Linked DNA regions of Homo sapiens: regions 1, 2, 4 and 5 are each reported to be linked to region 3. The links are microRNA targets in miRTarBase. Many come from high-throughput screens and were not tested one by one. Region 3 holds a microRNA gene; each other region holds the end of a gene's coding sequence.
Evidence for each region. Region 3 holds the annotated microRNA hsa-miR-378a-3p (ACUGGACUUGGAGUCAGAAGGC, at 2,867-2,888, opposite strand). A microRNA usually pairs through its seed, bases 2 to 8, with sites in the 3' UTR of a target mRNA and lowers its output. Matches are read on the target gene's strand: a 7mer-m8 pairs with bases 2 to 8, a 7mer-A1 pairs with bases 2 to 7 and ends in A, and an 8mer does both.

Region 1 (6,436 bases), not on the chromosome of region 3:
GAGCTAAGGTAGTTGCTTCTTGGTACAGTCTACAATTATACACAGGATGATCATATAACTTATCCTCCAAATTAGAACACTTTTGAGAGTACGATGAGGCACTATTAAGCTGAGAAAACAGGAATAACCAGGACTCTTTTGAGCAAACTAAGGATATATATTACCTTAGTTAAGTATGGTATCACATTCACTATCATTACTTTTTGCACTTCTTGAAATAGTACATACTAGATGAAAAAAATTATATTTAATGAAGGAACTCTGAATTTTTCTCCAATTGGATATTTTGAACTCCACTTTTCCTGTTAGGAGAGGTTTTACTGGAAATAATATTGTTTTAGCAGGTAAAAATCTGTGAACAACTTAGAAGGCATGTCTAAAATGAAATATATCTTATAGACTCAAAATAGGCTAAAGATTAGTATTTTTTCCATTAAGCAGAGATTTTCATTTTAACCAAATGTAATGGGATTTGTATTTTAATCTAAGTTTCTAAAATCTGTCCTGCATACACTATATAGAAAAGTGTTGTTTTTGCCTTAAAATTCAGTTTATTGCATAAATACATGAAAATGGATTATCCTAGCCATGACTAGCTTATTCATTTACAATAGAAATAATTTGAAATTTTTTTGTATTAACTTCCAATCCCCAGTTCACACTCAAAAATGTTTAGATACCCTAACAAGAGTTTTGATTTTTCAATCTTTAAGGCAGAGTGCAAAGATGATCAAGCATCCCCAAAACACAACAGCAGCTGTTCAAGCTCACAGGAAATGAAGTATGCAGGATTTTATATATCTGAAGGGAACATTAAGTTCTTGAAAATAACATTCTGATTCCCCTGCTTACATGATGAGATTTAAGGCTACCATTGAATTATGCCAATTATAGAGGATTCAGTAATATGTATACTTGAACCTTACAGATTTGGGGGGAAAAGTCAAAACAAAAAGTGAAGTTTTGATGCTGGATCAAAAGTAACATGTATCCATATTCAGAAAACAAGCACATATACCATAAAAGCTAAAATGAAATTTTAGTAAGTCGATGTTTGATAGCTAAGCTTCCTAGTAATTATTTAATTACCATGTAGCAAAGCTTAATTTCATTTAAAAATTATTGAAAGAATAAAGTACAGGTCTATAAGAAATTAATATGAAAGAGATCCAGCATGAGTTTGAATATGTTATTAGTACAGTTTAATTTTAATTAACTTCCAAATTAGGCAACTAAACTAAATATTTTTTCTTTACCCCATGCTACTGTCTTACTTCAAGGGGTGTAACACAGGTACTTTAATACAACAATAAAAATTTTAATATAACAATAAAAATTCTACGCAGGAAAGTAAACTGAATGAGACAAAACAAAAAATAGGCTATATTAGCAAAACAAAACTGTTTTATTTATCAAAGACAATGAAAAAATTAGAAAATACAGAAGAGGTTATAAAGCATAATAAATTTTATTTTTTGGAAATGGAAAAATGTCCCTGAATAGTTAGATGTACCTTTTAGTAGTAATGTCTAATAATAAATAAGAAATCAATTTTATAAGGTCCATATAGCTGTATTAAATAATTTTTAAGTTTAAAAGATAAAATACCATCATTTTAAATGTTGGTATTCAAAACCAAAGATATAACCGAAAGGAAAAACAGATGAGACATAAAATGATTTGCAAGATGGGAAATATAGTAGTTTATGAATGTAAATTAAATTCCAGTTATAATAGTGGCTACACACTCTCACTACACACACAGACCCCACAGTCCTATATGCCACAAACACATTTCCATAACTTGAAAATGAGTATTTTGCATATCTCAGTTCAGGATATGTTTTTTACAAGTTAATCCTAAAGTCATAAAGCAAGAAGCTATTCATAGTACAAGATTTTATTTGCTAAGCTTTACAAATTAAACTCTAAAAAATTATTACAATGATACTGAAAGATATTTTATTGGCCTTTTAAAAGACAAACACAAATGAGAATTATCTTATTTAGAAAATTAACTTTGAAAATTATCTTAAATGAAATAAATATAATATCTAATACAATCTCTTCCTGCAAGATCTCTTAAGATGGGCAATCCTAAAAATGCAGCTTCCCATCTGAAAATCCCTAAAACTAGTATGTCCCTTAAAATAAAATTTATTTTTCTTATAAAGGACATTTGGTATTCCCACATTTTCTTAAAATTTGTCCTAAAACAAATTCTATCTTTAACACTCACGTTTCTAAATATATATATGTGTGTGTGTATATATATGTGTATACATATACACATATATATTTAGTTCACTTAATTTAAAATTAGTGAAAGCTATCTGGACACAATTTCTAAGAAAACATTGCAGAAAGTAAGTTATGCATGGTTATTTACAGGAAGAGTTTTCCTAAATAATAATGTAAATATCATGTTCAAAAATCTGACAAATCCTTTCTAATAATCAGCACTGCAGGTTTCAATACACCTTATATAACAAAAGATGTTTCATGTGTAGAACTGCCAGATGAGTCTAAGAGCCAGAAACTAAATCATTTGACATGGTTAAGAATTTCATTTTTATTATACTAAATGTCAGGTCAGAAGTCAATGGCATTTACAAGCTGGAAGACTGTTTATCCACTCAACTCTTTCAATTATATCAAACACTGATTAACCAAATGTGACTGGACTTAACTGCTACAACTTTATGGTTTCTATCAAGTATATGCAAATATCTTAAATGGGCACATATGCATATGTGCAAAACAAATGAAATATAGATACTTAAAGAATGAACAGAAATGGCTTGTAAGCAAAAACCACCCTGCCATTCAATTTCGAAACTCCGTCTTTTCTTCACTAATTTGTCTTCTGTTATTAGTAGTCTTCTATTAAAGTTGTAGGTTTACAGATGATCTGGAAATTTCACATTGGTATAAGAAAGGAATGTCGGGTTGATGCAGTCTGGAGACAAAGAAGGAATTAGTCTTAAAATGTATTAAGTTGTCTTTATCTAAATCATAGTATAATACAACACATTTTATAGAAGAATTATATTAAGTATATAATATTCTCTTCATTAAAGTCTACATATCAGAATACATTCTAAAGTGTAAGGCTTCTATAGCAGATTTTCATCTAGAAAATATTTGCATTGTATTTTAGACTCTTCAAAATGCATAGAAGACAATCACACAAATTAGTAAAACAGCAAAATTACTTTGCCTTTTAATCTTATTATTAATACTGACAAATTCTTAATGCCAGTGTCTGCAAAGATATTTTGCTTGTTAAAATAAAAAAGCGACTTCTTTGGGAGTGGTTGGGGGAGACTTTAGTAGAACACTTAAAATGATACTTTAACATGATCTAGAAATACAAATGTATTCATAGTACTCTAGCAGAAATAAGTAAATTATATAAGCTTATGTATAACTTATATAAATGATAAAATGTAAGCAACCAAATCACAAAGCATGCAGTTTATTTATTTGAAAAAAGAATACTTAATAAACTTGAAACACTTTGTTCCTTATAGTCCTGCATTCAGAAGTTAAGTACTAGTAGACATTTTGGTAATAGAGTTCAAATGCTTTATAAGTTTACCTTATTTATAGGTATAAAGTACATGGTACTTGCTTTAAAAAGTAGAATAGGGAGTATGAGGTTACTTTATGTGAAGATACTCCCGCTGAACAATAAATAAATACTATTACTATACCCACGACCTCCAGAAATTCACTGGATAACCAGTAAGACAACTTCTACTCATTTCTTCATATTCCTACTTATTCAAGTTGTAGCCTTCATAGTTGATAAAAAATCAGCACACATTAAGAAAACAATAACAGAACTATTTTCTTCACATGACTTTTATTCCTTAATCCAGACTGTTAAAAGGACTGCAAGACAAATTGTTTTTCAATCAGATTTTTTTCTCCACCAGATGTCTATGTGAATTTCATATTGTTTTAGACAAAAATGCTCATTCCTTCGGTCTAAGTACTATGTCATATTTTGTTTTTTCAAGCCTTCAAATTTTGTGCTGGTGGTTACTTCATATACATTCTATGGTTAATCTTTAAAGAGAAGTTTTAAAAGTCTGATTCAAAATTTCAGTTCACTCGCTATGTATTTTAAAAATTAAAATTTATGAAATTCAATTTTAAAAATCTAAAAGTTATCTAAAAAGGTCTATGACTTATCAAATTTCAATAAGCTGACTGTTAGCAGTATTAAAAAATATTAAATATGCTAACAGTAAAAATCATGAATACACATTAGGCATTTAATATGTATCTGGCAAATTTGAATACATAAAGGGAATAGGCAGAGTTCACAGATTAATATTTCTTACCTCTACAATAAGAAGAAATACCTTGTTCTATGAGCAGCTGCCATACTTTCAGACATGTTTCTGACTTTTAGATAATTAACAAATCCTCTGAAGAAAAGGAGCAGGCCTGAGAAGGTTGAAATAATATGGATATACTATGTTTTTATACAGAAAAGGGCAAGATAAATTTAAAGTAGACAATTATAAACAAGATCCTCTTGGCTTAAGGAATTTTACTTGCAGACTTCCATTCATTTCTGTAATATATTTTACACTATAAGGATAAACTCTGTCACAAGGAAATACAATTTTTCAATTTGTTAAGCCTAGATGTACCAAAATTAAAGCAAATCTAGCTATAAAAATCCAGAATTACATAAAAATATACATTTAAGTGATTTTCTTCAATAGTAAAGTTACCTGACGCACTTAAACTGATTCAACTCATAAAAACCCCATTGAACCCATGGGCTCAATCTTTTCAATTAATATAACTACTGGGTGAACTAAGACATATTTATTTATATAAAGTAGATAAAAAGGAAATATATACATGAGGTTACTAACAATTATGAGGAAAAAAACAATAAGCCTGTATAGTAATATCAAGTGCCTGTCATCTGTGAAATCTGTATTTGAAGATACGTGCATTATGTACATATTTTTAATTATGAGTTCTTATTTTGAAGTAATAATAAAAAACTAACTTATAATAAAAAATTAAGATGAGTTAGAAAAGACAACTTGGAAGACAGTCACTCTAATGATTTAGATTATTTGGGATACATCTTATATCTACCTCAGTTTTCTCCTTTGTAAAGTAGTATTTTAAAATAACAACCACAAATATATTTAATAATTTAAAAAGCAATACCTGTAAAATTCTCTAAAGTTTCACATAAAAAATATTAGATAAGTATAAAACATTACCATTACTAGTATAAGCCTTTGAAATACTTAAGCATATGATTCTTAGGGAAACATTTATTAACTCCAGCAAATTTTTAACCAGGAAAACAGGGTGGGGGGGATCCAAAAACAAAAACAGAAGATATCTACTGTATGTGTATGACTTTCCTCACCAGGAGGAAAAGGAGTTTGTGAATTTAAAATATGAAGTCTCAAACTAAATTTGTACCCCAACTGCAAGACAGTAATCAAATCACTAAAAACAAGAAGCATGTGTGTAGTAAATTGGAGAGGAAAGACAGAAGAGAGATACAAATGATGACTTAAATGGTATAAATTACAGCTAAACCCAATCGCATCTGCTTCCCATATCCTAACTCCCTCCTTTTGGGACTCCTTCTGAATTCCACCCTCATGCCCTTCCAGATGCTGTTCAAAGATAATAATACTGTTATCCAAATGTAAAAATATTATTGAAAAATGTAAACCAACTTATTTGTGGGATCCCTTCCTTTGTCTCTAAAGCTGCTGTTTTCTAACACACATTTTACTTCTCAGGCATTTTCTAAAAGAAGCCACCCAGTTCATACCTAAAAACCAATCGCTCAGTGGCTACTGTTTCTCAGCATTCTACAAAGTGCTCAACATTCTTTTCAGCATATGTGAGAGCAACATTTTTATCACTGATTACATTTTCACATTCCCCTAAATAAATAAACACTAGATTATGGCTCTGAAGTGGAACTGGCATTGTCCTCTGTATTCTACTCTGCCCCACACTAACCTCCTTAAGATTCCTCCAATCTCTAAATAATATATATATACACACAAATGTACTCATTTAATATGCTTAAATACTTAATAGACTTTATAAACCTTCTCACTTTTAGGTAAGAAACTCAATAAAGAACACGGCATTCAGGCAGTTAGAACACATAATATAAAACTGGCTTCACCTCCAGATGCATCTCAACAAAGTCACAACACTAAAATAATTTCAATATAGCTATTAAAGAATTAAGTGACCTTATCTGACTAACAATAATTTGTTTCCCAAAAGATCCTAAAGATCCAACAGTATGACTAAATAAAAACTCAGAGAGAAGACTGCCACCTACTGAAATGCTGTTATTTTCTGGTAAAATTCTGAGTGAAACATGGGCTTTTACTCTTAACTAGAAACAAAAGGTATTCCT
Region 2 (4,000 bases), not on the chromosome of region 3:
TTTCGACCTTCAAGTCTTATTATTTGAGAAATACATTTCATAAGGCTCTAGCTGCCATGGATAGTGATGTCTCTGATGGATCTGGGCAAAGCAAATTGAAAACCTTCTGGAAAGGATTCACCATTTTAGATGCCATTAAAAACATTCGTGATTCATGGGAGGAGGTCAAATTGTCAACATTAACAGGAGTTTGGAAGAAGTTGATTCCCACCCTCATTGATGACTATGAGGGGTTCAAGACTTCAGTGGAGGAAGTAAGTGCAGATGTGGTGGAAATAGCAAAAGAACTAGAATTAGAAGTAGAGCCTGAAGATGTAACTGAATTGCTGCAATCTCATGATAAAACTTTAACAGATGAGGAGTTGTTTCTTATGGATGCGCAAAGAAAGTGGTTTCTTGAGATGGAATCTACACCTGGTGAAGATGCTGTGAACATTGTTGAAATGACAACAAAGGATTTAGAATATTACATAAACTTAGTTGATAAAGCAGCAGCAGGGTTTGAGAGGATTGACTCCAATTTTGAAAGAAGCTCTACTGTGGGCAAAATGCTATCAAACAGCATCGCATGCTACAGAGAAATCTTTCATGAAAGGAAGAGTCAACTCATGCGAAAAGCTTCACCGATGTCTTATTTTAGGAAATTGCCACAGCCACCCCAACCTTCAGCAGCCACCACCCTGACCAGTCAGCAACCATCAACCTCGAGGCAAGACCCTCCACCAGCAAAAAGAGTACGACTCACCGAAGGCTCAGATTGATAATCAGCATTTTTTAGCAATAAAGTATTTTTAAATTTAGGTATGTATATTGTTTTATTAGACAATGCTATTGCACTCTTGCTGGTCTACAGTATAGTGTAAACATAACTTTTATATGCATTGGGAAACCAAAAACATTCATGTGACTTGCTTTCTTGTGTTGGTCTGGAACTGAACCTGCAATGTCTTTGAGGTATGCCTCGACCTACCTCCTTAGGTTGCTGTATGGATCCCATGAGACAGTAACTTATAGTAATGGCAGCTAATGTTAACATTTGAGTGTTTATTGTGTACAAGGAGCTAATCCTCTGCCCTCTGAGGCTTTCAGAGAGGTTGAGAGACTTGTGCCAGATACACAACTAGTAAGGGGCTGGTGGGAACCGGAAATGGCCCCACTGTCATCAGATTCCCTCCCTGATTGAAGTTCTCCCCCACTCTCCCTAACTCCTCTAGTTCTCTATAGCTCTGACTCTGCTCTTGCTTCAAACACACTGTGCATGCACAGACACAGACTCACACTGGAGTAAATAATACGAACTTGCTGGTGATTGAATCCCAAAGACAGCAATCCTGTGCTTGGAGGGAGGGCATATTTCCAAGGTCCCCTCCTGCCAGCATATCCTGTCGTCAGGCCTTTATGTGGCACTTTCACTTTTCTTTTTTCAGTTTTGTAATTTTTTTATTTTTTTTGAGACAGGGTCTTACTGTGTCATCAGGCTGGAGTGCAGTCACATGATCACAGCTCACTGCAGCCTAGACCTCCTGGGCTCAAGCGATCCTCCCACCTCAGCCTCCCGAGTAACTGGGACTACAGGCATGCATCACCACGCCCAGCTAAGTTTTGTATTTTTTGGTAGAGGCCGGGTGTCCCCATGTTGCCCAGGCTGGGTTCCTGGGTTCGTGGGCTCCTGAGCTCAAGCAGTCCACCCACCTTGTCCTCCCAAGGTGCTGGGATTGCAGGTGTGAGCCACCACACCTGGCCAGGAATGGATTATTTTTTGCACCTTATTTACAGATGAGGGAACAGCCTCAGGGAGCATAGGTGACTTGCCCAAGGGTGTCCCCTGGTTACCAGCCAAACTCGTGTGCCGGCTGTAATCTCAGAGCAGGACCTTGCCTCTCCCCCAGGAAGACCCCAGCCTTACTACCTGATTAGTGGGGTCAAGGGAGGCCAGTCAAAGTCTCCTCCTGGAATGAAGAGCTCAGTGGCTCTCTGTTAACTCCACACCTCCTCTTGCCTAGCTCTTCCTTGTCTTAACCATCCTTTGGGAAGAAGGGCCTGTTTTTCAGGCCGTAGAATCTTAGAGTGTCAGATTGGGTCAGAGTCAGGAATTCTGGACTTCAAACCTTGTTTAACCACCACTGTTGTGTGGAGTCCCGCTTACTCTAGGCTCAATTTGCCTATATAACATGGGGAATAATGACTCTTGCTTATCCATACTGCTGTGAGGAGCTCTTAATTAAAAAGGAGGCCAGGTACAGTGGCTTATGCCTGTAATCCCAAGACTCAAGTGGGAGGATCACTTGAGCTCAGGAGTTCAAGACCAACCTAGGCAACATAGCAAAACCTCATCTCTACTAAAAATTTAAAAGTAGCTGGGTGTAGTGGTGCATGCCTGTGGTGCCAGCTACTTGGGAGGCTGAGGCAGGAGCATTGCTTGAGCCCTGGAGGTTGAGGCTGCAGTGAGCCATGATCATGCCACTCCACTCCAACTTGCATGACAAGAGTGAGGCTCTATCTCAAAACTAAACAAAACAACAACAACACATCAAAAACTAAAAAAAAAAAAAAAAAAAAGAGGATTACAAAACTCAGGAAATCGTCTTGTGGTCAGTGGCAGAAAAATGCACATGAATGGAAAGGCCACTGGGGCTGTTGAGAATTGGGTGCTTATTGTACCCAGAAGGCACGGGGGGGAGATGCCAGCTGGTATGGGCTGCTGCCCTGCTTTGGAGAGAGCATCGGCTGCTACTCTTCACACCTCTTGTGACTGCCCTCTTTCAGGGAGAACTTGTAAAAGGGGAGCCAGTCCCAAGTCCGAAGGTATTATACAAAACAGTCCTTCGGGCTTCAGACTGATGGGAATGAATAATGCTTTGCCTAAGTGAGGGGAGTGCACTGAGTGGAGGGGTGGCTGGTGCCAGGATGAGCTAGCCAATCCCACGTGTGTGCTGACTGCAGCAGGACACTAGCCACGGCCCACCCCCAACCACTCTCGGACTCCAGCTCAGACTGTTTCCCCAGCTTTTCTCAGGGCTGTTTGGCTCACACAGTCCTGAAGGGCACTTCCCAAAGAGCACACTTAGGACCTCAGTAGGAGAACGTGGCTGATAAGACTCAGTGTGACCCACGTGTGTGACTCCCACATGCCCCACAGTGGTTGGTTGGCTCAGTCTGGTGAGGGCAGGTAGGGGCGTGGATCTCCAGGGAATGGCAGGGCCGGCACCCGGTTGTAGTGGGCCATGAGGAAGATGCCAGCTGTGCCACAGATGAAGAGCGAGAGCATGGCCAGGAAGCAGACGCGGTCCAGCACTCGGCCCACCAGGAACCACTCCTCATTCCCCTGAGGGTGGGAGGCAGGTGTGGGATAACCAGCGGCGGCACCAGGTCTTCCCTGGGTCCTGTTCTCATCCTTGGGCTTCCAGCAGGCCCATGTCTCCATTTCCTGGGGCCCTTCTTACCTATGTCCGGGTCCCAACTGGTGGCTAATTCCATGGCCCCCTGGCCCTGAGGTGCCCCCCCTGCCCCTGTTCCTTTTTCTTTCTTTCTTTCCTTTTTTTTTTTTTTGAGACGGAGTCTCACGTCTCACTCTTTCACCCAGGCCAGAGTGCAGTGGTGCGATCTTGGCTTGGCTCACTGCAACCTCCGCCTCCCAGGTTCAAGCAATTCTCCTGCCTCAGCCTCCTGAGTAGCTGGGAATACAGGTGCCCGCCACCACACCCAGCTAATTTTTGGTATTTTTGGTATTTTTGGTAGAGATAGGGTTTTGCCATGTTGGCCAGGCTGGTCTCAAACTCCTGACCTCAGGTGATCCACTCGCCTCGGCCTCCCAAAGTACTGGGATTACAGGTGTGACCCACTGCACCCGGCCTCATGTTTTTCCATCCCACTGCCCTATCTTGGCAACCCCACTCATCCTGTCTCTATCACGGTTCCAAGCCCAGGTACTCACTCCACCTCCACCCCACCCTGACTCAGCTTACATTGTCAAAGTGACTCTGCTGGTGCCGGGCACAGG
Region 3 (4,000 bases):
CTTCAAGGAGCTTAGAGTCAAATAGTCTGGGAACACTGCCCACTAATGCTGGCTCTTCTACTTACTCAAAGGTAATTAGTCTTCCACAAGTCAGTGAGTTCTCTGAAACTGTAAGATCTGTACAGCTGTGCAACAGCACCTACATTTTGCACAATATCTATGAGAATGAAATGTAGTAGTGCAAACAGAAGGCTCAGAAAACTGCATGGGGTATAGGGGATACTCAGTAAACGTCACTGATGATGACGATGAAGGAGAAGGCAAGGATCAACACTGCAATATTCTTGTTAGGCATTTCCAAGCCTGAGCCCCCTTTGCAAGACTGCTTCTCACTCGAGCCAGTCTTTCTTCTATTATTCCAGAGGAAGAAGGAAGAGGGTGACTCACGTGGCATAGTGGAACTTCTGCCTGGCCTGCACGAGCTGCTAAGAGGAGGGCCCTAAGGTAAAGAGGAAATATGAGCCCGTGGGGCACAGCTGCTGGGCCATTGCCCTTCCTGGGTTTCACAGGCATCCTGATCATTAGCACCAGCCAGGGAATCCCAATGAAAGTGGAGCCCAGGTCTCTGGTGAACATGACCCCTTCTGGCTCAGGTGAAGAAGTTACTCTCCCTAAGTCTCACACAGATAAAGAATGGGCAAATGCACCCAGTGAAGGCTATGCTTCAATCTTCTCCCACACACTATACATTTGTCCAAATCTACAAACTGATTTGAAAAAGAAGTTGGCCCTGGCTTCAAGGGGTGTGTGGAGCCATTTTCCCAGTTCTCCATGTGGCAGGGGGCCCTTCTGGGTGCTCAGTCCCAGCTTTAGAACAACGAGGAGACAAGATACCAATTGCAAAATGGGCCAAGTTCAGAAACACAGAACCACAAGTCACCCATGATCATATGGGGAAGAAGTTTAGCATCACAAGTAATCAAATAAATGCACATTAAAACAATAAGGGTAACAGAATTTATTGACGAACAGACTGGTAAAAATGAAAAACAATGAAAATATCAACAGTTATCTGGGTATAGGAAACCAGGTGTTCCCAGACCATGCCAGTGCACAAATAAGTACAATCTTTCTAGAAGAGAATCCAGGAATGAGTTTGATGGAGTAATTTCACTTCTAGGAACTTAAAGGAAGAAACAAAGACATACATAAAAAGATATTCGTTTTAGCATTGCTTACAATAGCAAAATAAAAAAATTAAACAACGTAAATGAGTAACGATAAAGGATTAATTAAATACATCTCGGTTCAATCTTCAACAAAACATTATATAATCATTAAGATACTAAGTAGAATATTTACTGATGTGGAAAGATGTTCACAGCATATTGTTTGGAAGAGGAAAAAAAAAAACAAGTTACAGAACAGTGCAATTCCAAGTTACAAATCAGTATATTCAGGATAACTCCTTTTTTTTTTTTTTTTTTTTTTTTGAGAATGAGTTTCGCTCTTTTGTCCAGGCTAGAGTGAAGTGGCGCGATCTCGGCTCACTGCAACCTCCGCCTCCCGGGTTCAAGCGATTCTCCTGCCTCAGCCTCCCAAGTAGCTGGGATTACAGGTGTGTGTCACCACGCCCAGCTAATTTTTGTATTTTTAGTAGAGACAGGATTTCACCATGTTGGCCAGGCTGGTCCGGAACTCCTGACCTCAGGTGATTCACCCGCCTCGGCCTCCCAAAGTGCTAGGATTACAGGGGTGAGCCACCGTGCCCGGCGACTCCATTTTTTAAAAATAAGATGTGATCTATATGAACAGGAAATAAACAGTCTGGAATATACATGACAATTAAGTGGTTATCTTTGGGTCATGTTACATATTTCTCATTTTTTTCTTTATGCTTGGCAGTATTTTCTAACAATTCTATAATTAAATATTTTTAAATAAGTTGTTAGAACTGATGATTTCTAACATTCCCGCTGCCAACTCTGACATTTTGTGCATCTATGACTGATGCCCTAAGCAACTTCAAATAGCCCATATTTAGTGTGGACTTGCTGTGTGGCCTTTGGGGTCTAAAATTTTGCCCACAGCTGCAGCCCTCTGCATTCCTCTCTCCCACACTCGCTGCCCAGCTGTCTCCCCTGCTAGCCTGGGAGCTTCTGCTTGGCAGGACCCAGCTGCACCCCTGTCTGTAATCCATGTGCCTAGCCAAGAGCTAAGCAAAGGAACACAGCTCAGCATACTGACAGGTGCCTTGCAGGCACAATGATAAAAGGTACAACCCTAGTGCTAGAATCTTACTGGACACCAGACTCACACAAAGTGCTTGGTTGTATCACACAGATGCAGAAAACCAAAGGAGAGAAAGCAGGGCAAGCTGGGCTGGGAGAGCCTAGTAGAGGAGAAGGCCATGCAGGACGGGTGAGTGAGGGTACTCTGGGCCAGGGGCATAGCCTGAACAAAGGTGAAGCCACCCACAGTCCTTTGGGATCCATGCCTCAAAGCTTTCCAAGAAACTTTCGCAATCCTTGTTCTGCTAAATTTCCGTACTTTGGCCCCAATGGGTAAAAGTTAAGTCTCCTAAACAGAAGTCCTCCCTCTAATCTAACCCTGGATTAGCCACCAAAGACAACAACAATCTTTTGGGACAAAGACAATGAATTACCATTTAATCCACTTTCCCCAAAGCTCCCAAAGGGAGATGAAGGAGGGGAGGGTCAGGGAAAGTTTGGGGGAGGAGAGGGGGTTGCAGGAACAACCAGAACATCTCACATGCAAACACTGCTCACCCCCACCACCAGGCCATTGGATTCTCTTGCGGCACCACCAGCCCCATTTGACAGATGGAGGAAATGAGGCTCGGAGAGTTCAAATGGCTTGCTCCGGGGTCACCCAGCCAGAGAGTGGGGAAGGTGACTCCACTCAGGCCTTCTGACTCCAAGTCCAGTGCTATTTCTAGGTAACACACAGGACCTGGAGTCAGGAGCCCTGGGTGGCTCTGTCACCCTCTGGCTGCATGGTCCCATACAAGCCGCTCACTCCTCGCAGCCTCTTTCTCCAGCTGTAAAATAAGGAGGAGCACACTGGGCCCGCCCAGGTCCTCTTCCGGCTGGGCTCTCCGAGCCTTCTAGGGGCGGCTCAAAGCTCATCCTATCAATTACATTTCCCAAGTTGGGCCGGCAAAGATCACCAGAAGATCCTCGGCCTGTCATGTGGTTAAATAAAAAAAGCAAATGTCCCAGATTAACTTTCACTGCACTGCTCCTGCAAACACCTGAGTATTCAATTTTCTAGTTTCCTTAGTTGAAATATTTCTGCTAGCTAGGCTCGCTGGGCGGCTAAAGGGCAAAATAATTAATTATTGCTGAGCCAAACACTGAAGATCGAGTTAAAATCCGGGGTACAGTCCAAAGCGGACAGTTCTTGACATGGGTCCCTGAACGAGTCTCCGGCTATTTCAGGCCTCTCTCATCCGCTTTTCAGCCAAGAGATTCGGAGACGCCCCAGGGCAATTTCGAGATCTGGGGACAGAATCTTCCCAGGAGTGACTCTGCCCCTCCTCCCGCACTCAGTGCCCGCTAGCCCCAAGCTGTCGGCTCTGGGGGTACTGAGGCTGGGACCTGCCTTCGGCGCAGACACCGGCGCGGGGCGTGTGACGGAGCCCGGCGACGACGGCGGGAGCTCCACCGCAGTTTCGTCAGAGGTAAAGGTACGCGCCCGGCGCGCGCGGCGTGTGCACACACACACACACACACACACACACACACACCCGCGCGCGCAACCCGCTCATCACACATTCCCCTCGATCTCGAGAAGCGCAATCACACGCCACTAGCCCCTCCGGCCTCTGCCGCGAACCCACCCGAGCGCGCCCGCCACCGACCACGCGGCCCCGCGGCTCCCCTACGCAGCGGCGTCTGCAGCGGGCCAGGGGCGGCCTGCCTCCCGCGTGGCGGGCTTCCTCTCGGCGACACCCTGCCACGCCACGCCGTCCCAGCCGCCAGCCCGAAGTCGCTGCCCGGAGCTGAACGTCTCGGCTGCGGCGTCCCTTCCAAGTCGC
Region 4 (4,163 bases), not on the chromosome of region 3:
AAGTAGCTGGGATTACAGGTGCATGCCACCATGCACCGCTAATTTTTGTATTTTTAGTAGAGGCGGGGTTTCACTATGTTGGGCAGGCTGGTCTCGAACTCCTGACCTCAGGTGATCTGCCCCCCCTCAGCCTCTCAAAGTGCTAGGATTAGAGGCATGAGCCACCACACCCAGCCTGGAGCACCACTTTCTGTACGTGACTTCAGTAGGATCCATCGTTAAGCTGGGCCTTGTCGAAAACTGCAATTAACCAGGCAGAGAAGGGGGGCGCCTGTGGTCCAGGCCAAAGGCCCAGCAAGCACAAAAATGTGAAATCCCTAGACTCCCCTTCCAGCTGGTAAGTGTGGCCAGATCTAGGAGGGACAAGGGAGGAGGTCAGAGAGGTGGGCCCGTCAAAGTGTGGGGGGGAAAAGGGACCACAAAGAGGGCAGGAAGGCCTCATGCCCTGAAGGAACCCTGAGCACCCGGTGCCACTCCTAGGACTGGAAGCTGACCCTGATCACCAGGGTGGGACTGGCGCTGTCACTCTTCTGCCTGCTGCTGTGCATCCTCACTTTCCTGCTGGTGCGGCCCATCCAGGGCTCGCGCACCACCATACACCTGCACCTCTGCATCTGCCTCTTCGTGGGCTCCACCATCTTCCTGGCCGGCATCGAGAACGAAGGCGGCCAGGTGAGGTCCCGCCCCGCTCCCTCCTGAGCTCTGGGGTCAGGGAGGCCTGGGAGGGGTTAGCCCCGCCCACTCCCGGGGCTCAGTCGGGTAGGCGGGCCCTGGAGGCATGAGGCCCCGCCCCTGTCCGGGATCTGGCCCCGCCCACCGGGGGGTCGGGTTGTCTCTTTAAAGGGCGCTGGCTTTGGAGCTGCCTGGCCACACCCCGAGTGCCCGCTCGCTTCTGAGCGTTGTTGGGGGTGGGCCCTGGGGGGAAACCTGGCCCCCGCTCCAGACCCGCCCACCCTCCGGCTGTGGTCCCGCCCACTCTCGGGACCTGGCAGGCGACTGGCTCTGGCGCCGCATGCCCCTCCCCGCGCTGACGTCGCTCCGCCCCTCCGTCCCCGCCCCGCAGGTGGGGCTGCGCTGCCGCCTGGTGGCCGGGCTGCTGCACTACTGTTTCCTGGCCGCCTTCTGCTGGATGAGCCTCGAAGGCCTGGAGCTCTACTTTCTTGTGGTGCGCGTGTTCCAAGGCCAGGGCCTGAGTACGCGCTGGCTCTGCCTGATCGGCTATGGCGTGCCCCTGCTCATCGTGGGCGTCTCGGCTGCCATCTACAGCAAGGGCTACGGCCGCCCCAGATAGTGAGTGCAGCGAGATGGGGCAGGAGGAAGGCGGGGTGCTGGGCCTGGGGCTCACAGGCAGTGCCACACACAATGTCCGGCCGCCCTCCGTTCCGCTCCTGGCTTCCTGGGGCACTGATGGGACCCCTCCCTTCCCTCCTAGCTGCTGGTTGGACTTTGAGCAGGGCTTCCTCTGGAGCTTCTTGGGACCTGTGACCTTCATCATTTTGGTAAGTACCCACTCTCCCTCCACCGAAGCCCGAGCGCCACAGGCCCAGGCCCGGCTGGACCATCGCTCTCGCCCTCTAACCCACAATCTGCTCCCTGCCCAGTGCAATGCTGTCATTTTCGTGACTACCGTCTGGAAGCTCACTCAGAAGTTTTCTGAAATCAATCCAGACATGAAGAAATTAAAGAAGGCGAGGTGAGAGGAGAGGCTGGAAGGACTTGGAGGCGGGGCCGGGGTGAGGGGCATGAAGCTGGAGGTGAGGTGGGGGCCCACGCTGCAACCCCGCTCCTCGCAGGGCGCTGACCATCACGGCCATCGCGCAGCTCTTCCTGTTGGGCTGCACCTGGGTCTTTGGCCTGTTCATCTTCGACGATCGGAGCTTGGTGCTGACCTATGTGTTTACCATCCTCAACTGCCTGCAGGGCGCCTTCCTCTACCTGCTGCACTGCCTGCTCAACAAGAAGGTGGGGGCCTGGGCACAGTGGCGCACGCCTGTCATCCTCCCACCTATTTGGGAGGCTGAGGTGGGAGGATTGCTTGAGCCCAGAAGTTGGAGACCAGCCTGGGCAACATAACCAGATGCTGTCTTTACAAAAAAATTCAAAGATAGCCAGGGTGAGGCGCCTGTAATCCCAACAGTTTGGGAGGCCGAGGTGGGCAGATCACCTGAGGTCAGTAATTCAAGACCAGCCTGGCCAACATGGTGAAACCCTGTCTCTACTAAAAATACAAAAATTAGCCAGGCATGGTGGCACACGCCTGTAGTCCCAGCTACTTGGGAGGCTGAGGCAGGAGAATCATTTGAACCAGGAGTGCAGTGGGCCAAGATGGCACCATTGCACTCCAGCCTGGGTGACAGTGAGACTTGTCTCCAAAAAAAAAAAAAAAAGCCGGGTGTGCTGAATACCCATCTCAGCTTCTCAGGAGGCTGGGGCAAGAGGATCACTTGGGCCCAGGAGTTCAAGGTTGCAGTAAGCTATGATGGTGCCACTACACTCCAGCCTGGGTGACAGGGGGACCCGATCTCAAAAAAAAGACAAACACAAAAACACCAAGAAGGTGGGGCTGAGGGCAGAGCATGGGGAGGAGCGTGCATGGTCCCAGGGCCTGCTCCTGCCCTGACTTGGTGTCTGGGCCGGCAGGTTCGGGAAGAATACCGGAAGTGGGCCTGCCTAGTTGCTGGGGGGAGCAAGTACTCAGAATTCACCTCCACCACGTCTGGCACTGGCCACAATCAGACCCGGGTAAGGGGCTGCGCCTGGGGCGGGTGTGGGCAGGAAGGCACCAGGGCTAGCGGGGCTCAGGCCTCTGGGCTCTCCTCTCCAGGCCCTCAGGGCATCAGAGTCCGGCATATGAAGGCGCATGGTTCTGGACGGCCCAGCAGCTCCTGTGGCCACAGCAGCTTTGTACACGAAGACCATCCATCCTCCCTTCGTCCACCACTCTACTCCCTCCACCCTCCCTCCCTGATCCCGTGTGCCACCAGGAGGGAGTGGCAGCTATAGTCTGGCACCAAAGTCCAGGACACCCAGTGGGGTGGAGTCGGAGCCACTGGTCCTGCTGCTGGCTGCCTCTCTGCTCCACCTTGTGACCCAGGGTGGGGACAGGGGCTGGCCCAGGGCTGCAATGCAGCATGTTGCCCTGGCACCTGTGGCCAGTACTCGGGACAGACTAAGGGCGCTTGTCCCATCCTGGACTTTTCCTCTCATGTCTTTGCTGCAGAACTGAAGAGACTAGGCGCTGGGGCTCAGCTTCCCTCTTAAGCTAAGACTGATGTCAGAGGCCCCATGGCGAGGCCCCTTGGGGCCACTGCCTGAGGCTCACGGTACAGAGGCCTGCCCTGCCTGGCCGGGCAGGAGGTTCTCACTGTTGTGAAGGTTGTAGACGTTGTGTAATGTGTTTTTATCTGTTAAAATTTTTCAGTGTTGACACTTAAAATTAAACACATGCATACAGAAGATGGCCTTGCCTGCTGGTGGTGATTCAGAGGCCGGGCCCAGGGTGTCCGTGAAAGGCCAAGATGACCAAGAAATAGATGGGGTGGGAGCCAGGCTTCCATAATAACAAGTTTATTCTCATACAATCTCTAGCTTCTCAACAGTGGCGCCTGGAAAGGGGAGGTGAAGCTGCATGCGGGCGGCTCCGGGTGGGCGGCTCTGGCACGTGGTGGTTACCGGCTCTGCTCGACTGTAAGACATGAGATGCAGTGAACTGAAGGGCCGGGGGAGGAACCCTCTGCCCCAGACCCCTGGCCCTGCCCAAGGCACTTACTGTATGTGGAGATGTCGATTTCCTCTGGAAGTTCTGCCACATTAACTTCAAACCGGTCCTGGACGTCATTGAGGATTTTGGCATCATTCTCGTCAGACACAAAAGTGATGGCTAGGCCTTTGGTGCCAAAGCGACCCGCCCGGGCCACCTGCAGGCAGACAGGATCAGGGTCAGGCCACAGATACTACCTCAGGACTTGAGGAAAAGCAGGGCTGGGGCCCCACCCCACCGCCAGGGGAAAGCAACATGCCCGTGAGGCTGCTCACCCGGTGCAGGTAGGTGTCCGAGTCCTCAGGCATGTCGTAGTTAAAGACGATGTTGACTCGCTCGATGTCCATCCCCCGGCCAAACAGATTGGTGGCCACCAGGATCCGCCGCTGGAAATCCTTGAACT
Region 5 (6,436 bases), not on the chromosome of region 3:
TGCAGTCGTGGTACCATTCGCACCCTCTAGGATAGCTAAAATAGAAAAGACTGACGATCAATGTTGAAGAGGATGTGGTGCAACTCAGACTCTCGTGCGCAAAGGGATCCAATCTCTTGAGAAAACTGTTTCTTGTGAAGTTAACTACAGAACTACTCTGTGACCCAGCACTTCCTTGTATTTACCCAGAAAAATAACTTAAGTTCTCAAAATTTGAACAAAAACATTCATAACATTCTTATTAATAGCATTTTTATTATACGAAACCTCCAAACTGGAAATAACCCGAATGTCCATCGAAAAGAAAATGGAGGAATTAAGGTATAGTTATAAGGAACTACTACCGAATAGCTCGATAACATGAGTGAATCTCATAGGCACAAGGGAGTGTGTTCTGCATGATTCCATTTATATGAACTCCTAGTATAAGCAAAATTAATTACAGAATTAGAAGTCATTATAGTGTCTACCTCTTGGGGTGGAGGTGGGATATCTTGAGGGGATGCGTTTGTAATGTATCCAGTTGTCAAAAAATCATCCTGCTGGAAAATTTACATTTTGTTTGCTCAGTTTTTAATTGTTTCCATTTTAGAATGTTAACTTTGTTCTTGGGACCAAAAACATAGACCTATTTGTATTATGACATCTTCTGATTTATAGTCTAAATCAGGGGTCCCCAACCCCCAGGCCGGGTACCAGTACTGGTGAGTGGCCTATTAGGAACCAGGCCGCACAGCAGGAAGTGATTGACAAGCAGGAACGTTACTGCCTGAGCTCTGCCTCCTGTCAGATCAGTAAGGCATTAGATTCCCACAGAAGCATGAAGCGTATTGTGAACTGTGTATACGAGGGATCTAGGTTGTGCACTCCTCATGCGGATCTAACACCTGATGACCTGAGGTGGAACAATTTCACTTTGAAACTACCCCTGTCCGTGGAAAACTTGTCCTCCACAAAACCAGTCCCTGGTGCCCAAAAGGTTGGGGACCGCTGACCTAAATTATTAAAATTTAGTGAGATGCATCCTTACTACTTAAAATGTCAGCTGCATTTCTAGTCAGTGCCTTATCTCCTTCTGTCAAAGTTCGAGTCACTGGATTTTATATTGTTTCATTCAAAGTGTGTTGGAATACCCTTTTTATGGTTGGAATACAGATTGAGAGAAGTACATTTTTATATCATCTTTGTTATAAGAGTGAATGTGAATATAAACCAAGAGTGAATGGAGTGAATCTAAACCAAGATTCTTCTAGAGACAACAGTGTTGCTATAAATTAATTAACTAGGACTCTTCTTTTCCTGAAGGTGTACAAGGGAGAAGAAGCCACATTCCAAATCTCAGGCCTCCAGACCAACACAGACTACAGGTTCCGCGTATGTGCGTGTCGTCGCTGTTTAGACACCTCTCAGGAGCTAAGCGGAGCCTTCAGCCCCTCTGCGGCTTTTGTATTACAACGAAGTGAGGTCATGCTTACAGGGGACATGGGGAGCTTAGATGATCCCAAAATGAAGAGCATGATGCCTACTGATGAACAGTTTGCAGCCATCATTGTGCTTGGCTTTGCAACTTTGTCCATTTTATTTGCCTTTATATTACAGTACTTCTTAATGAAGTAAACCCAACAAAACTAGAGGTATGAATTAATGCTACACATTTTAATACACACATTTATTCAGATACTCCCCTTTTTAAAGCCCTTTTGTTTTTTGATTTATATACTCTGTTTTACAGATTTAGCTAGAAAAAAAATGTCAGTGTTTTGGTGCACCTTTTTGAAATGCAAAACTAGGAAAAGGTTAAACTGGATTTTTTTTTTTAAAAAAAAGAAAAAAAAAGAAGAAAAGTATACCAGATACCAAAAGCTAGCTTTCTTATGTTTTCCTTTAAATTTTCAGATTTACCTTCATTCTGTTTTCACTGATGTCTTTTGCAAGCCTTTGATTTTTTTTTTTTTGTTACAGTTTAGTAATTTATATTCACCAGTCACTTCATATGTCTTGAACATCTGTATCTGTAAACATGAATCACCGTGTGTGTACTTACAGGGCTAGGATTTCAGTGTTGTCAGAGTATTACCACACAGCAACAGCAACATACAGAAGATATGTTCACTCAGATAAGACTGCCCTAAACAACCATTTTGTCACTCAGTTATTTAACTGTGTTTAGCTCATTTAAATCAAAATGTGTACTTTAATCTAAAATGTTTTAATAATCTGTATTTCTTATAATTTTAACACTATGAGCTGCCTGTATAAGAAATCAAGTAACCAGAATGCACCTATAAATTATGGAGCATTGTAGATTTTACCACATCAATTCATAGCAGTAACTTTAAGAGGGCATTGTGCAATAGTTAGTTGTTTTCTTGTTCAGCTATTTTAAAGGCTGCTTTAACTTGTTTGTTTGTCTTTGTATATAACTACTTCTAATCTAATCACTAGAGTTATTATATTCTGTTATGTTTGACCAGAATTATATGACAAGAACTGGTGACAGTTTAGTGCCTCTGCCCATTGTCCATGATTTACACTAATTGTGAGCAGTCTTCTTATGTGTCAGCTCATTATTTTTGAAACATTTGCCTTTAGGCTGTTCTTTGAGGTATCAATGAAGTGATTGAATTTCAATACCTTAATTCAGTGCACATAATACTAATGTAACAGCAGATGAAAATTGATAAAACCCAAAAGAGAGTCATCTAAATTTGTAGTTCCTATTTCTGTGGGTTTGCCTGGCCATGGTTGGAGAGGGAATGGTGTTTGATGGTAAACACAGGGTGTTTGGGGATCAAGGAGCCTAGATTCTCTCCCTGGATCTGTCACTAACTTGCTGCGTGACCTGAACACGTCACTTTACCTCTCTGTGCCTCAGTTTTCCCATGCATGAAAAATAAAATAAAATAAAACGGGGATTCTAATGTTTGTAAGTGCTTTGAGATCTTTGACCAACAGGTGCTATTGGAGTGCAAAGTGTTACTCTTACGTGTTTATTTTGAGTCATGAGATAATCAATTTTAACCCAAAGTCATTGGATTATTTATATGAAGTCCATAATGTTCGAGTACCTCAGGGACATTTAAGAGTTGGAGGTGCAAATATATTCCAAAAGGGTGCAACAGACACAGTGTATCCCCCTGCTTCTGTTTTTGTATATTTTTGCTACTTGGTTTTTCTTGATCATAGCTATTTTGTGCTTGATCTTTATTGTCTAAGATGCAGTATCCTGTACTAGCTTATAATATTCCCATACCAAAGTCATGGGGAAACAAACATTATTTTGTTTTTGGTTTATTTATACTATATTCTGCATACAGTACTTTAAATGCCAATTACAGTGCAATCTTTATTTATTGTAAAATTTTTTAAGTGTACTTATGTACTAATTTTCCCTTGTAGCATGTTATATTTTTGTGTTTTATACTTTTGTAATTTTAGGTCAGTCTTGTTCCTTGGCAACATCTGTAGTATTATTAATCTTCTGACATTTTCTTATGTTTTTAAAAAGATAAGAGCATCTAGTGCATTAAATGCCAAAAAAAAAATACATTATCAGTGATTGAAACGTTTACATGTACCCAAAAACCATAATCATCTCTTGGAAGAAAATGCTGAGATCAATGAATTATTCTGTGTGCCTATATTGACGTAGTGAGTACTAGAGAGTTCTGTATTTTATTATTGACTATAATAATTAGTTTAATTAGCTTTGCAAACTGATGGCATCAAGGTAAATATATTTTTGCCAAAGTTCTGGCCTTCCAAAACTCACCCCCTTATTTAAATGTGTGCTATGACCCACTATGACCACAGCATCTGCATTTTCTAAAAAATTCCATGCAGGTGTTTTGGGGAGAGGTATTTTTTAAGCAATGAAAATTCAACTGAGTACAAAGCCCCCTCTTGGGGGGTTGGGGAAGTCTCTTTTTTGAAACACTTCAGAACTGCTGCTATAAAGAAATTCTCTAATTGGTTGAATTTTTTTTTTAAGTAAATAGTACTTTAGGCCAAAATTTATATGAATATTTGATCTTCTTGAGATTTTCATACTATCATTTAACCACCAGGAAGCTGAAGTGTGTGAAGTACAAAGCTGACAGCACTTTATTTTATTGCTCTCCATTATTTGGTATTCATTATATTCCTTCAGTCAGAAAATTATTACTCTCTATGGCACTGTTTTTTATCACAAATATGTATATGTGATATTGATATATAACTATATATATTGCCATCACACACGAACAATAAAATAAAGTGTTCTATTAACCTGATCTCTTTGCCCTTTTGCTATGTGAGGAGTGAATGAGTGGCCTTCTGATGCTCTGACTCTTCTCTGTATGTCAAACTCATCCCTGGCACAAGAAATTCCAGTCATGTGAAGCAAACTGCCCTTTGTCCTCAAAGAAATTGTTGAAAAAGAAAACTTTTTAAAGAGATTTTTTGCATATTCTCTGCCTTGTTCTTATCAACTTGAAATGTTGGCATTTTCTAACCTTGTTTTGTTGGCTACAATAATTCAGTATTCATGTCAAAATTGAGAAGTGCCCTAATTGAATGTGTTTGAATGTTATCCTTGCACAATTCTTTAAATTGAAAGATAAAATGTTTTACCTCACTGTTGGACATACATTCCAAGCTTTTCAACTCTAGGAGAAAAAGAAAATCATGTTTTCCTGTATTGTAAATTTTAGACTATTTCATATACATTGTATTAAAACTGCCATATCAATTTTAATGTATAGATTTTGCAAATATTATGCTATATGTAATACCTAACTGTATCTGTAGTGTATATGTAATATATTTATGCCCAATAAATGTTTTAATTCTTTCTGACTTAAATAGGGTTTTTCTGCCATGACTAGGATTGCTTTTGTTGTTGTTGTTGTTGTTTCTTTCTTTTTTTTTTTTTTTGAGACGGAGTCTTGCTCTGTCGCCAGGCTGGAGTGCAGTGGCGCGATCTCAGCTCACTGCAACCTCCAGCTCCCAGGTTCAAGTGATTCCCCTGCCTCAGCCTCCCAAGTAGCTGGGGATTACAGGCACTCGCCACCATGCCCGGATAATTTTTTTTTTTTTTTTGAGTTGGAGTCTTGCTCTGTCGCCCAGGCTGGAGTGCAGTGACCCAATCTCGGCTCACTGCAAGCTCCACCTCCCGGGTTCATGCCATTCTCCTGCCTCAGCCTCCCAAGTAGCTGGGACTACAGGTGCCCGCCACCACGCCCGGCTAATTTTTTTAATTTTAGTAGAGTCGGGGTTTCACCATGTTGGCCAAGATGGTCTCGATCTGACCTCGTGATCTGCCCGCCTCGGCCTCCCAAAGTGCTGGGATTACAGGTGTGAGCCCCCGCACCCAGCCTTATTCTTCCCTTTTAAATACTTAAAGCACATTCAGATTAGTTGAAAATTCACGTGTTTTTGGAGGCCAGGCAGGTGGCCTTCTGCAGAGACAGCAGCAGCTCAGCTCTTGCTGACCAAGGCCTTGGAGGACTGTGAGCCACAATCACATATGTCCATGTTTCAAAAGAAGCTAAATATCCAGATTTCCTCCATGGGCCAACTAAAAGGTGATTGTGGACTATACAGGCTGCCAGTTTAATCCTTTATCAGAGTCTCTGTGGATAATGTACCTTGTTGCCTAATACTTTATCTGTCTACCAAAACTCAGTCCAGATCTCCCTCTGTTCACCTGGCACACTGGGTGCTTCCTCTCCCCTGACGAACTCTATAGAGTGTTCATGTCCTTTCCTGCAGGTCTCATTCAACAACAACAACAACAACAGCAATAAAACACAGTGTTCCTGCTATGGCCATGGTTTTGTGATTTTAGATTGTCTTAGTAGGAATTCCCACTATCTCTTTTATTTTTCAGGAAAATGGGTAAAAAAAACTGTCACTTTATTGAACCTCACTTATATGAAGCATGGTAATTATTCTGGGTAAAGATGACAAATTGAGCACATCAAATTTTGAATGCTCCTGACACCACTAAAAGTAAAGGATTTTTTATTTTTTTAAGTCACAACTCAACCCTCAAGACTGGGAAGAAAGAGGAGTTATTGGCACCAGAATTTTGGAAATATGATCAACAAAACTTAATTCTAATTTGGCAGAGGAGAAAATGAGCATCAGTGTTTTTATTCTCAATGCAGGATACCCTAAAGGCTCAAAAATTGACAGCAACATATCCCTTTGAAGTGATAGTGAAGAGAGAGAGGAGGCTAAAATAGTATTGGTTGAAAGCTGTTTAAAATGCAGTTAGATCAATAAAATCCCTCCCCCTTTTTTTTTTCAGCTGGACAAAAATGTCCCTCCTCCCCACCCACCTCCATCACTCTTGCAGAAGCCTAGAGGTGTATCCTCAGGAGAAGGTTCAAATAGAAAGTCCCTGGACTGGGAGACACGATCCACAGTTGAGAATGAAGGCACCATATCA

Region 1: miRTarBase lists NDFIP2 as a target of hsa-miR-378a-3p. Seed matches in the 3' UTR shown: 7mer-m8 at 2,680-2,686 and 7mer-A1 at 2,333-2,339.
Region 2: miRTarBase lists TIGD1 as a target of hsa-miR-378a-3p. The part of its 3' UTR that is shown has no 7-base or 8-base seed match.
Region 4: miRTarBase lists DDX39A as a target of hsa-miR-378a-3p. The part of its 3' UTR that is shown has no 7-base or 8-base seed match.
Region 5: miRTarBase lists FNDC3B as a target of hsa-miR-378a-3p. Seed matches in the 3' UTR shown: 8mer at 5,667-5,674.

The regions. Positions count from the first base shown.
Region 1 is chr13:79,549,039-79,555,474 of GRCh38, reverse strand. It overlaps NDFIP2 (Nedd4 family interacting protein 2), which reads right to left. Exons shown (of 8, transcript NM_019080.3): 7 at 4,353-4,458; 8 at 1-2,959. The coding sequence ends at 4,355. Among named protein-coding and RNA genes, the nearest start is that of LINC01068, 14 kb to the left of the region's middle.
Region 2 is chr2:232,544,868-232,548,867 of GRCh38, reverse strand. TIGD1 (tigger transposable element derived 1) reads left to right here. Exons shown (of 1, transcript NM_145702.4): 1 at 1-4,000. The coding sequence ends at 761. CHRNG (cholinergic receptor nicotinic gamma subunit) reads right to left here. Exons shown (of 12, transcript NM_005199.5): 11 at 3,966-4,000; 12 at 753-3,325. The coding sequence ends at 3,152. Among named protein-coding and RNA genes, the nearest start is that of TIGD1, 3.7 kb to the left of the region's middle.
Region 3 is chr5:149,731,755-149,735,754 of GRCh38, reverse strand. MIR378A (microRNA 378a) reads right to left here and starts at 2,930; the gene lies at 2,865-2,930. The region is part of intron 1 of PPARGC1B (PPARG coactivator 1 beta); the gene reads right to left. RefSeq lists a silencer at 3,778-4,000.
Region 4 is chr19:14,405,268-14,409,430 of GRCh38, forward strand. DDX39A (DExD-box helicase 39A) reads right to left here. Exons shown (of 11, transcript NM_005804.4): 9 at 4,036-4,163; 10 at 3,770-3,917; 11 at 3,531-3,685. The coding sequence ends at 3,669. ADGRE5 (adhesion G protein-coupled receptor E5) reads left to right here. Exons shown (of 20, transcript NM_078481.4): 14 at 481-672; 15 at 1,064-1,290; 16 at 1,433-1,499; 17 at 1,602-1,693; 18 at 1,794-1,962; 19 at 2,641-2,742; 20 at 2,825-3,456. The coding sequence ends at 2,854. Among named protein-coding and RNA genes, the nearest start is that of DDX39A, 12 kb to the right of the region's middle. RefSeq lists enhancers at 1-517, 90-384, 518-1,147, 2,530-2,759, 3,980-4,029 and a silencer at 662-1,181.
Region 5 is chr3:172,395,859-172,402,294 of GRCh38, forward strand. FNDC3B (fibronectin type III domain containing 3B) reads left to right here. Exons shown (of 26, transcript NM_022763.4): 26 at 1,306-5,811. The coding sequence ends at 1,617. Among named protein-coding and RNA genes, the nearest start is that of GHSR, 49 kb to the right of the region's middle.